Homo sapiens: one gene and its partner. Each later gene encodes a partner of the first gene's protein in a complex. Each region holds a gene or a part of one and is shown in the gene's direction. Other genes may lie near its edges.

Region 1 (3,897 bases):
CTCTGGGCAAACCTGGACGTGCTACTGGTGGCCTCTTGGCAGGAGCTGAGTCGGCACGTGTGCGCCGTTACCAAGGCTCTCGCCCAGTATCCCCTCAAGTGCGTGATGCCAAGGCTGAAGGGGGGCAGGATCACCTCAAGGTAGTGGTGCCTCCCCGGCCTTTTGGGAGCTGCTCACATGAGGTTCTAAAAGGCTTCTCTCTGTCCCCAGGCAGTACCGGGAATCCCAGGCCTTCTCCTTCTGCACAGCAGGGCGCTGGGCAGCCGGCGAGCCAGTGGCAAGAGACGGCGCAGGGCTGCAGGCGGCCTGGCGGAGGCAGATCAGGCAGTTCAGTCGGGTCAGCCCAGCCGTGGCTGATGCAGTTGTCACAGCCTTCCCCTCCCCCCGCCTTCTGCAGCAGGTGGGCCCCTGCCTCCTCCAAGCCCTCCAGGTGCAGAAGCCCCGTCCCCAGGCGCCCTCTCATGCCTTTGCCTGCTCCTAGGCGCTGGAGGCCTGCAGCACGGAGCGGGAGCGCATGGGCCTCCTGGCCGACCTTCCTGTGCCGCCCAGTGAAGGCGGGCGTCCCCGCAGGGTGGGGCCTGACCTCTCCCGCCGCATCTGCCTCTTCCTGACCACAGCCAACCCTGATCTCCTGCTGGACCTGGGCTCCTGACCACACGTGGGACCACCAGGACAGCATGCAGCCTTGGGGACAGACCAGACACCCTGGGCGGTGGGGGAGGACCCCCAGCCACATGTGGACCCTCAGCCTGGGTGGGTTCTCTGGCTGAGCAGGTCTGACCTCAGGGGAAGGGTGGGTGGTTGCAGGGGAAGTTTTAGGTAGCTGGGAGAAGAGGGGCTTCTGGCTGGCAGATGGCTGGCGGTTCCTGTGCTGAGTCCTGAACACGTAGGCCCCAGGGGAGGCCTCAGCAGCAGGGCTGTGCCCCCCCAACACACACACACACTCGGCAGGGACCAGAAGGCAGCTCCAGGGCCCCACTGCCACCTGGAGGCTTGGGGTGTGGCACCCTCAGCCAGAAGCAGTAGGGGACTCCCAAGGATGTGGAGGGGCAGTGAGGCCTGGGAGAAGGCCCAGGCTGCTCGCAAGCCCGGCCTCTGCACGGATACGTTTCAGCTCACGCCATGTGGGTGTTAGACATCAACTCTACATTTATTGCAGTCCTTTAAGTCTATGACGGCGGGGCAGCCGCTGACAGCATGCAGAGCAAGTTAGGAAAAACCGAGGCCCTGTGGGAACAGCAACGCGGGCTCCAGCCAGGCTCTCGTCCTCGCAGCCTCCCACAAGACCTGGGGCTCAGGGCAGCCGCTTCCCCACCCAGCACAGCAGCAGAGGGGCCCTAGAGCCCCCACAGAAAGGACTGTCCCAGCCTCGGGAGCAAGAGATGGCTCCCTCCGGACGGGCCTCATCCAACTCCGCCCTGGAGTGTGGCTGGAAGGAAGGGACAGAGAAAGAAGGGACAGAGGAAAGGGGCTGTCCCAGCCCAAGAAGGCAGTTCCACTGGGAAGTCAGTCAGGTCCGGCGGCAGCGCTTCCTCTGGCAGGGCCGAGGCTCGCGACTGCTGGGGTGGGCGGAGGTCGCTGCCTGGGGATCGGACACTGGAGCCTTGCGGCGGCTGCAACTCATGCTCAGGACCCAGCCCAGCTTGTTGTGTAGCACCTGCTTGAGGCCCGGCGGCAGCGGCAGACCCTCCAGCGTGTCTCCCGAGTCTGGCCGCAGCTGGCGCAGGCGGTGGCAGCACAGGTACTGGAGGGAAGTGGCGCTGGCACAGGAGCGGGTGACCTTCATGCTGCTCCGGGCCGCCGTGGAGCACACCATCGGGTAGAATCTCTTGTTCTGCAGCTTGGTGGCTGCCACACCTGGAAGGGAGGGGCCCAGCCTGAACCCCAGGCAGGGAAGGGGCCAGCTACTGGGCGCAGCCCCTCAGACCTCACGCTACAGTCACCCGGGTGGGCAGCTGGCACAGCTGAGGCAAGGCAGGGTGCACGCGCTGGCCCTGCCACTCCAGCCTGGCCTCACTGTCCCACCCCCTGGGACCCTGGGGCCTCAGGCTTCTGGGAGGAACCCTTTCAGAAAACCTCAGTGTCCCCTGGGCTGGGGCGGGGTGGCTGCCTCCCTCGGGGTGACAGCTGAGAGGAGCTCAAGTCCTGTGACGGCCTCACCTATACACTTCCTGTTCTTGAAAAAGGTGAGTGTGCCGTGCCAGGTGTCCAGGTGCACGCCAATGATGGAGCCCTGGCCGAACCGCGATGAGAAGCTGGTCTTGTCGCCCTTGTGGTGGAGGAGGCCTGGGGGCAGCCAGGGTCGCAGTGAGCCCGGGAGCTCCAGGCTCGGCCCCGCCCCACCCTGGGCCTCACGCACCCGTGTAGGAGAGGCCCCAGCTGTCCTCATCCCTGCCCAGCAGGCTGCAGAACGTGTGGCGGTATTTGTCCAGGTCCACATCCGACGTCCCGATGCCCACCATCTAGGAACAGGGGCCAGGCAGAGGGCGCGGGGCTGGGCTGCCGGAGCCAGGTTCCCCAGAAGCACCCTGGGCCGAAGCAACTTACCATGTCGGTGCCGTAGACGGGAGAGGTCATCTTGATCTCCCAGAAGTGCTGGCCCTCCCCCAGCTCCTTGGTGCCCCGGATGGCCGCTGTGCCGCAGCTGTACTCCATGTGGAAGCTGACCTTACGGTTGTCACAGCTCAGCAGGGTGGCTGATGACTTATTTAAGTCATCCCAGACCCAGTCGAAATCTGCAAGAGAGGCCCAGGCTGGGGCAGCCCTGAGAGCTCCATGGGGCTCTGCCCTGCCCACCCCCAGGCCCGCCCGCAGTGCAGTCCCAGCAGGGGCTGGGCCCCACGCTCACACTCGTCTTCCTCTCCGCAGCGGCAGTCCCTGCCCCGGTGGGCCGAGTGCAGGCTGCTACAGAAGGAGGCCTCGCTCTGCCCAGCACAGTCACAGAAGGACTCGCCGGTCACGGGCACCGCACTGGGGATGGATGGCGGCAGCGTGGAGTACTCGGGGTCGGAGTCCGAGTCGCTGTGCTGGGAGAGAAGGGCCGGCTGTTACTACCTGTTGCCCGCTCTCTACCCTCTCACCCTTGCCCTCTGTCCCTGTCCCACCCTGTCCCTGACCCACCCAGGAAAGGATGGGGGTCCAGGCCTCCAGGGACTTCACAGTACCCCGAGCGCACAGCCCAGGCTCCCTCCCAACGGGCTCCGGCTCTGCCCCATTCTGCATGACCAGGAGGGCCCTGGAGGCCCAGCCACAGAGCAGTAGCCAAGGCTGCCTGGCCTCCAAGTGGTTTCTAGACGGTGGATAAGCCCCAGGTCCACCCCACCTGCCCAGAGCTGAGATGGTGTGGACACCTTCCCTGCTAGGCCAGCCCTGCAGGGGCCCCCAGGCAAGGCCACCACCCCCACACCAGGCCCAGCTGCAGCCACCCGGCCTCAGGGCAGTCCCCACCACACTGTGGCCCAACGACCTTCCTGTTACCTGAGCAGACCTGGCTCACCACAGGGTCCTACTGCCCAGTGCCCACTACAGGCCCCGCCCCTCCTGGTGCAGGTTTCAGCTGTCACCTCCCTGAGGCTTCTCCAGCCCCTTCACCCCTGTTCCATTTTTCTTCTTTTGCTTCACTGAAGTTCTCCTTGGTCCTGATTCTTGGCCTCCTCCCACCAGAACGTGAGCTCCTTGTGGGAGGCAGTGCCCCTCCCAGCCTCCTCCCTGTCACAGACTGTGTGGGGGCCACCCAGGGGCTGAATGGACCAGGGGGTCAGCAGGGAGAGTGCTAAGTGGTGGCGGGGGGCCTGTGGCAGAGGCCTTGTGACAGTGAGGGTTGAGGGCTGGTCCAGAGAGATGATGTGATCCCCAGGAGAAGCCACAGGGGACCATGACATGGGCGCCACCAGCTTC
Region 2 (3,897 bases), on another chromosome or scaffold:
CTTCCGTTTAGTAGGAGCCGCACAATGAGGGGTGGGGCGGGCTTCCGGCGCTCCCACCGCGAGCCGACGGGAAATGGAGTCCGCTGGCCCTGCGCCGCCGCCTCGCTCGCTGGGTAACGGAGTCTTCCCGCCGGCCGGCTCCGAGCTGCAGTGCATGTAGGGAAATGTAGGCCCAGGTCCTGGGCGGCACCGCAGCGCGCAGCGCGAGCCCATTGGTCCAATTTCCCAGGAACCGCTCTGAGCCCGGCGAGGCGGCGCTCAGTAAAATGACCCGAAAACGATCCCCGACTAAGCGGCTCTTTATCCCACAGCAAAACGGCTTTCTTAAGACCCATCTGGTATTATCTGGATCCCTTGGCCTGAAATTTTTGAGTGAGGTTAGGGTTTTGCATTTCTGAATCGAAGCAACTATTGATTAGCCTGGAATCCCGACCTAAAGCAAAGGAAATCACAAGTATGAAGGCGTCGTCAGTCGGATAAACACTAGTACTCTGCATGTGTAAAGCCACTCTCGTCTCCTGAAAAAAGGCCATGTCCAACGTCAGTAAAACAAGAATAGGAGGAAAAGGCACAGGGGAAAGGTACAAGGAAATCTCTGAGAGCTTTGTTCTTGTTTAAAGATGTTTGGCAAAGTCATGAGGCGTTAAAGGGTAAAGACGAGGGTTTGTGCATTCAATTCAAGGCTTCTTTACATGCCTTTACGTGCCAATGAGAAGAAATAGATATTAAACCAGACTTGAACCCAGCTCTCGAGTTGATAGCCAGGTACATGGTTATTCTAACATCCGCAAAACTGAGACAAGTTCTGTGGTAGTATATGCCTTAAAAAAAAAAAGAAACGAGCGGGGGACTCCGGGATGATTTTGTTGTTCTAGAACAGTGACCACAGCCTCACACTCTGCAGGAAAAGACTGGGTCGCAAACAAGTCAGAGGCAAACCCAGAAAGGGAACTGGGGGCCCTAATCCTATAAACGGAATTAAGGGTGTAAACGGAGAGCGATGCCTGGGAGTGGGGTACCTTGCAGAGCATACCGGGGGTTGTAGTCGGGGACATTCCACAGCACCGCCCCCGCCCGGACTCCCGGCGCTCCAGGTGGAGACAGCAGCTTGACCCCGCCTCCCGCGAGCGACCCTACATGAATATGAGGCTAGCGCCCCCTTTTCTGAGCCTTAGAGTTTCCAAGAGCAACGGGGAGAGAGAGGGGGGCTTCGCAGTTACCCTGGAGACGCGCTCTCGCCCGCCCCCAGCCGCGGGATGCCCTAGATGTCCTTATTAGGACAAGAGACTCGAGGGGGCGGGGCCAGCCCGACAGCCGGCTTGAGGCTCCTTATAAGGCCGCGGCGGGCGGGAGGCGGGAGCCGGAGCCCATTGGTCCAATTTAGCTTGGCTGGGGCTACTGCGCCGTGGGCTAGGCACAGTCCTGAGGGGCGGGACTGGAGCTCTGGCGCCCACCTCTCCCTTCCTCGCAGGCTGGAGACCTGCGTGTTGCGACTTCCGGCATAGCAGCTAGAGGCCGGGTGCTGCTTCAAACCCTGGCGGGTCGCCTGTGTCCAACTCAGCTATACGTGTCTTTCAGGCTTCTCAGGTTGAAGCCCTTTGTAGGGTTTCCATCTTCAACCTCCCTGAGGGTCTCCCACTTCCGATTAGCCACAAAAATGACGAAGTGTTCTCCCCTCTACCTGTGTCTGGGCTTCTTAACCCGCAGCCTGCTCCTCCGCTCCCAAACCCAACCGCGTGCCCATCTCAGGCCTCCCCAACTGCCAGGATGCCCAAGCACCTCTTACTTACAGTCCTCCTTCCTCTAGGCCTCTGACCCCCGACATTCCGAGTTCTATTTTGGGCCTTCTCGGCACGTCCCCGACTTCCTCTCCACCACACACTCTTTGCCCTGTATCCCGGGGATGAGGATCACCATTTCCTCCAAGGGTCCTGCAGCTCCTCCTGCCTTACCTTTGTGTCCTCATCCCCGGCACCCATTTCTGGGTGTCCCTCCCACCAATACGTTTGCACCCGTTTGTCTCCTAGCCCCCGCCTCTCCTGGACTCTTTTCAAGACCAGTCTCCATCTCCAGCCTCCTTCAAGCTTGAGGCTGAAGCTGACAATCTTAAGAGACCTTAGAGCCGCCAAGCTCAGGTTAGTCCGTTAAGCGCCGCCCAGCCAGTCCTCCCCGTCACAGGGGGCGCTGTCCGCCTTCCTCTCGCCTACACAAAGACCCCGCTCTCGAATCTGGGGTGACAGGAAGGAGCCGGTCCAGGCTCCGGGGGCTGGGAAAGGGCGCGTCTCAAAGGCTGGCTGGAGTGGAGCCAAGGGAAAAGATCGTTAGAGACAGCGCCCCTGACCAACCACTTAGAGCAGCGCAGGGGTGGGAGGGCGGCCGCAGGCTCTCCTCTCGTTAGTGCCCCCTGTGTTTGGGGCCCCGTGATCTCAACGGTCCTGCCCTCGGTCTCCCTCTTCCCCCGCCCCGCCCTGGGCCAGGTGTTCGAATCCCGACTCCAGAACTGGCGGCGTCCCAGTCCCGCGGGCGTGGAGCGCCGGAGGACCCGCCCTCGGGCTCATGGCGGCCCCGGTCCGCCTGGGCCGGAAGCGCCCGCTGCCTGCCTGTCCCAACCCGCTCTTCGTTCGCTGGCTGACCGAGTGGCGGGACGAGGCGACCCGCAGCAGGCGCCGCACGCGCTTCGTATTTCAGAAGGTGGGTCCTGGCGTGGCCCGATGGGAAAAGCTGCTGGCCAGGTCAGGCCTGCCCTGACCAGGTACCCTACCCCTGCCCGGCCAGGCGCTGCGTTCCCTCCGACGGTACCCACTGCCGCTGCGCAGCGGGAAGGAAGCTAAGATCCTACAGCACTTCGGAGACGGGCTCTGCCGGATGCTGGACGAGCGGCTGCAGCGGCACCGAACATCGGGCGGTGAGCGCCTCGGAAAGGGGTCGGTGATCCCCCACCTCCCCCAGGTGGAGCCTCCGTACTCTCCTGGGAGCCCTTGGCTTTTAAGCTCCCCACTCCTGTCCCAGTTGCCGTTCGGCCTAGGGCTAGTGGCTGGCGCTCCCTGAGCCTCCCTCACCGGTCTCACGTAACCATCTGAGTAGGTTGCATCCCAGATCCTCGCAGCTGCCGGATTCGTGGAGTGTGGAGTTAACTCTTTTCTCTCCCGCAGGTGACCATGCCCCGGACTCACCATCTGGAGAGAACAGTCCAGCCCCGCAGGGGCGACTTGCGGAAGTCCAGGACTCTTCCATGCCAGTGAGGAAGGGGCAAGGGGAGTGGAAGGCAAAGTGGGAGTGCGGGAGTATGATTTTCTGGCTTGGGGGATTTGGCAAGCCTGAGTCCAAATCTCACCAGTGATGCCTGGCCTTGAGCAAATGACTTATCCTCTTTTCGACTTAGTATTTTAACCTGTGAATAGAAATATTGGTAACAGCCAATGAGAGAATTCCATGATCAAGCTACTTAAGGATCCCAGCTCAGTTAGTTACGGGGTCACCATTATTGAGTTTTCCTGTCTAATTACACCTGTCCTGCAGCGCATGGTAGAAGTGAGGCCAGGCTGGGCAGACACCCCCACCCACTGCCCCGAAACTGCCTGCTGTTTTATCCCAGATTTGCAGCGGATCATCCCATCACCTGGCCCATTTTACAGAGAAGGAAACTGAGAGACAACTGAGTGACTTACCCAGGGCCACAAAGCCTGCTGGGGACTTATTCAAAGATGACTGGCTGGCTTTCATGTTCAGAACTCCTCTGTACCTTTCAGGTTCCTGCCCAGCCCAAAGCGGGAGGCTCTGGCAGCTACTGGCCAGCTCGGCACTCAGGAGCCCGAGTGATACTGCTGGTGCTCTACCGGGAGCACCTGGTGAGCACTGGGCTACACCGGGAGGCGGAACCATGGCAGTGGGGTGGGA

What was found.
Region 2: the proteins of EME2 (region 1) and MUS81 are in contact, whole or in part, in a crystal structure (PDB 7F6L), measured with the Homo sapiens proteins. Residues at the interface, in NP_001244299.1 of Homo sapiens: Glu140, Arg177, His179, Glu220, Glu221, Val224, Leu225, Gln227, Leu228, Trp229, Asn231, Leu232, Asp233, Leu235, Arg245, His246, Ala249, Val250, Lys252, Ala253, Leu254, Gln256, Tyr257, Lys260, Gln261, Glu264, Gln266 (codon at 227), Phe268 (codon at 233), Phe270 (codon at 239), Cys271 (codon at 242); in NP_079404.3 of Homo sapiens: His330, Glu351, Phe354, Lys357, Arg358, Arg363, Val365, Glu381, Leu385, Gln386, Thr389, Asn390, Gln392, Val393, Ile394, Phe398, Lys400, Arg401, Tyr411, Leu414, Leu415, Arg417, Gly418, Leu419, Arg421, Leu422, Pro447, Ile464, Lys467, Ala468.

What each region holds. Positions count from the first base shown.
Region 1 is NC_000016.10:1,775,587-1,779,483, forward strand, and holds part of EME2 (structure-specific endonuclease subunit EME2), read left to right. Parts: coding exon 1-98; intron 99-210; coding exon 211-400; intron 401-481; coding exon 482-652; 3' UTR 653-1,510; coding exon of another isoform or gene 1,511-1,857; 3' UTR 1,858-2,160; coding exon of another isoform or gene 2,161-2,286; 3' UTR 2,287-2,359; coding exon of another isoform or gene 2,360-2,462; 3' UTR 2,463-2,547; coding exon of another isoform or gene 2,548-3,026; 3' UTR 3,027-3,897. Other genes in the region: SPSB3 (SPRY domain-containing SOCS box protein 3), read right to left, coding at 1,511-1,857, 2,161-2,286, 2,360-2,462, 2,548-2,735, 2,849-3,026. UniProt on the Homo sapiens protein: Non-catalytic subunit of the structure-specific, heterodimeric DNA endonuclease MUS81-EME2 which is involved in the maintenance of genome stability. In the complex, EME2 is required for DNA cleavage, participating in DNA recognition and bending.
Region 2 is NC_000011.10:65,858,198-65,862,094, forward strand, and holds the start of MUS81 (structure-specific endonuclease subunit MUS81), read left to right. Parts: upstream 1-2,235; 5' UTR 2,236-2,556; coding exon 2,557-2,691; intron 2,692-2,775; coding exon 2,776-2,905; intron 2,906-3,152; coding exon 3,153-3,238; intron 3,239-3,749; coding exon 3,750-3,848; intron 3,849-3,897. UniProt on the Homo sapiens protein: Catalytic subunit of two functionally distinct, structure-specific, heterodimeric DNA endonucleases MUS81-EME1 and MUS81-EME2 that are involved in the maintenance of genome stability.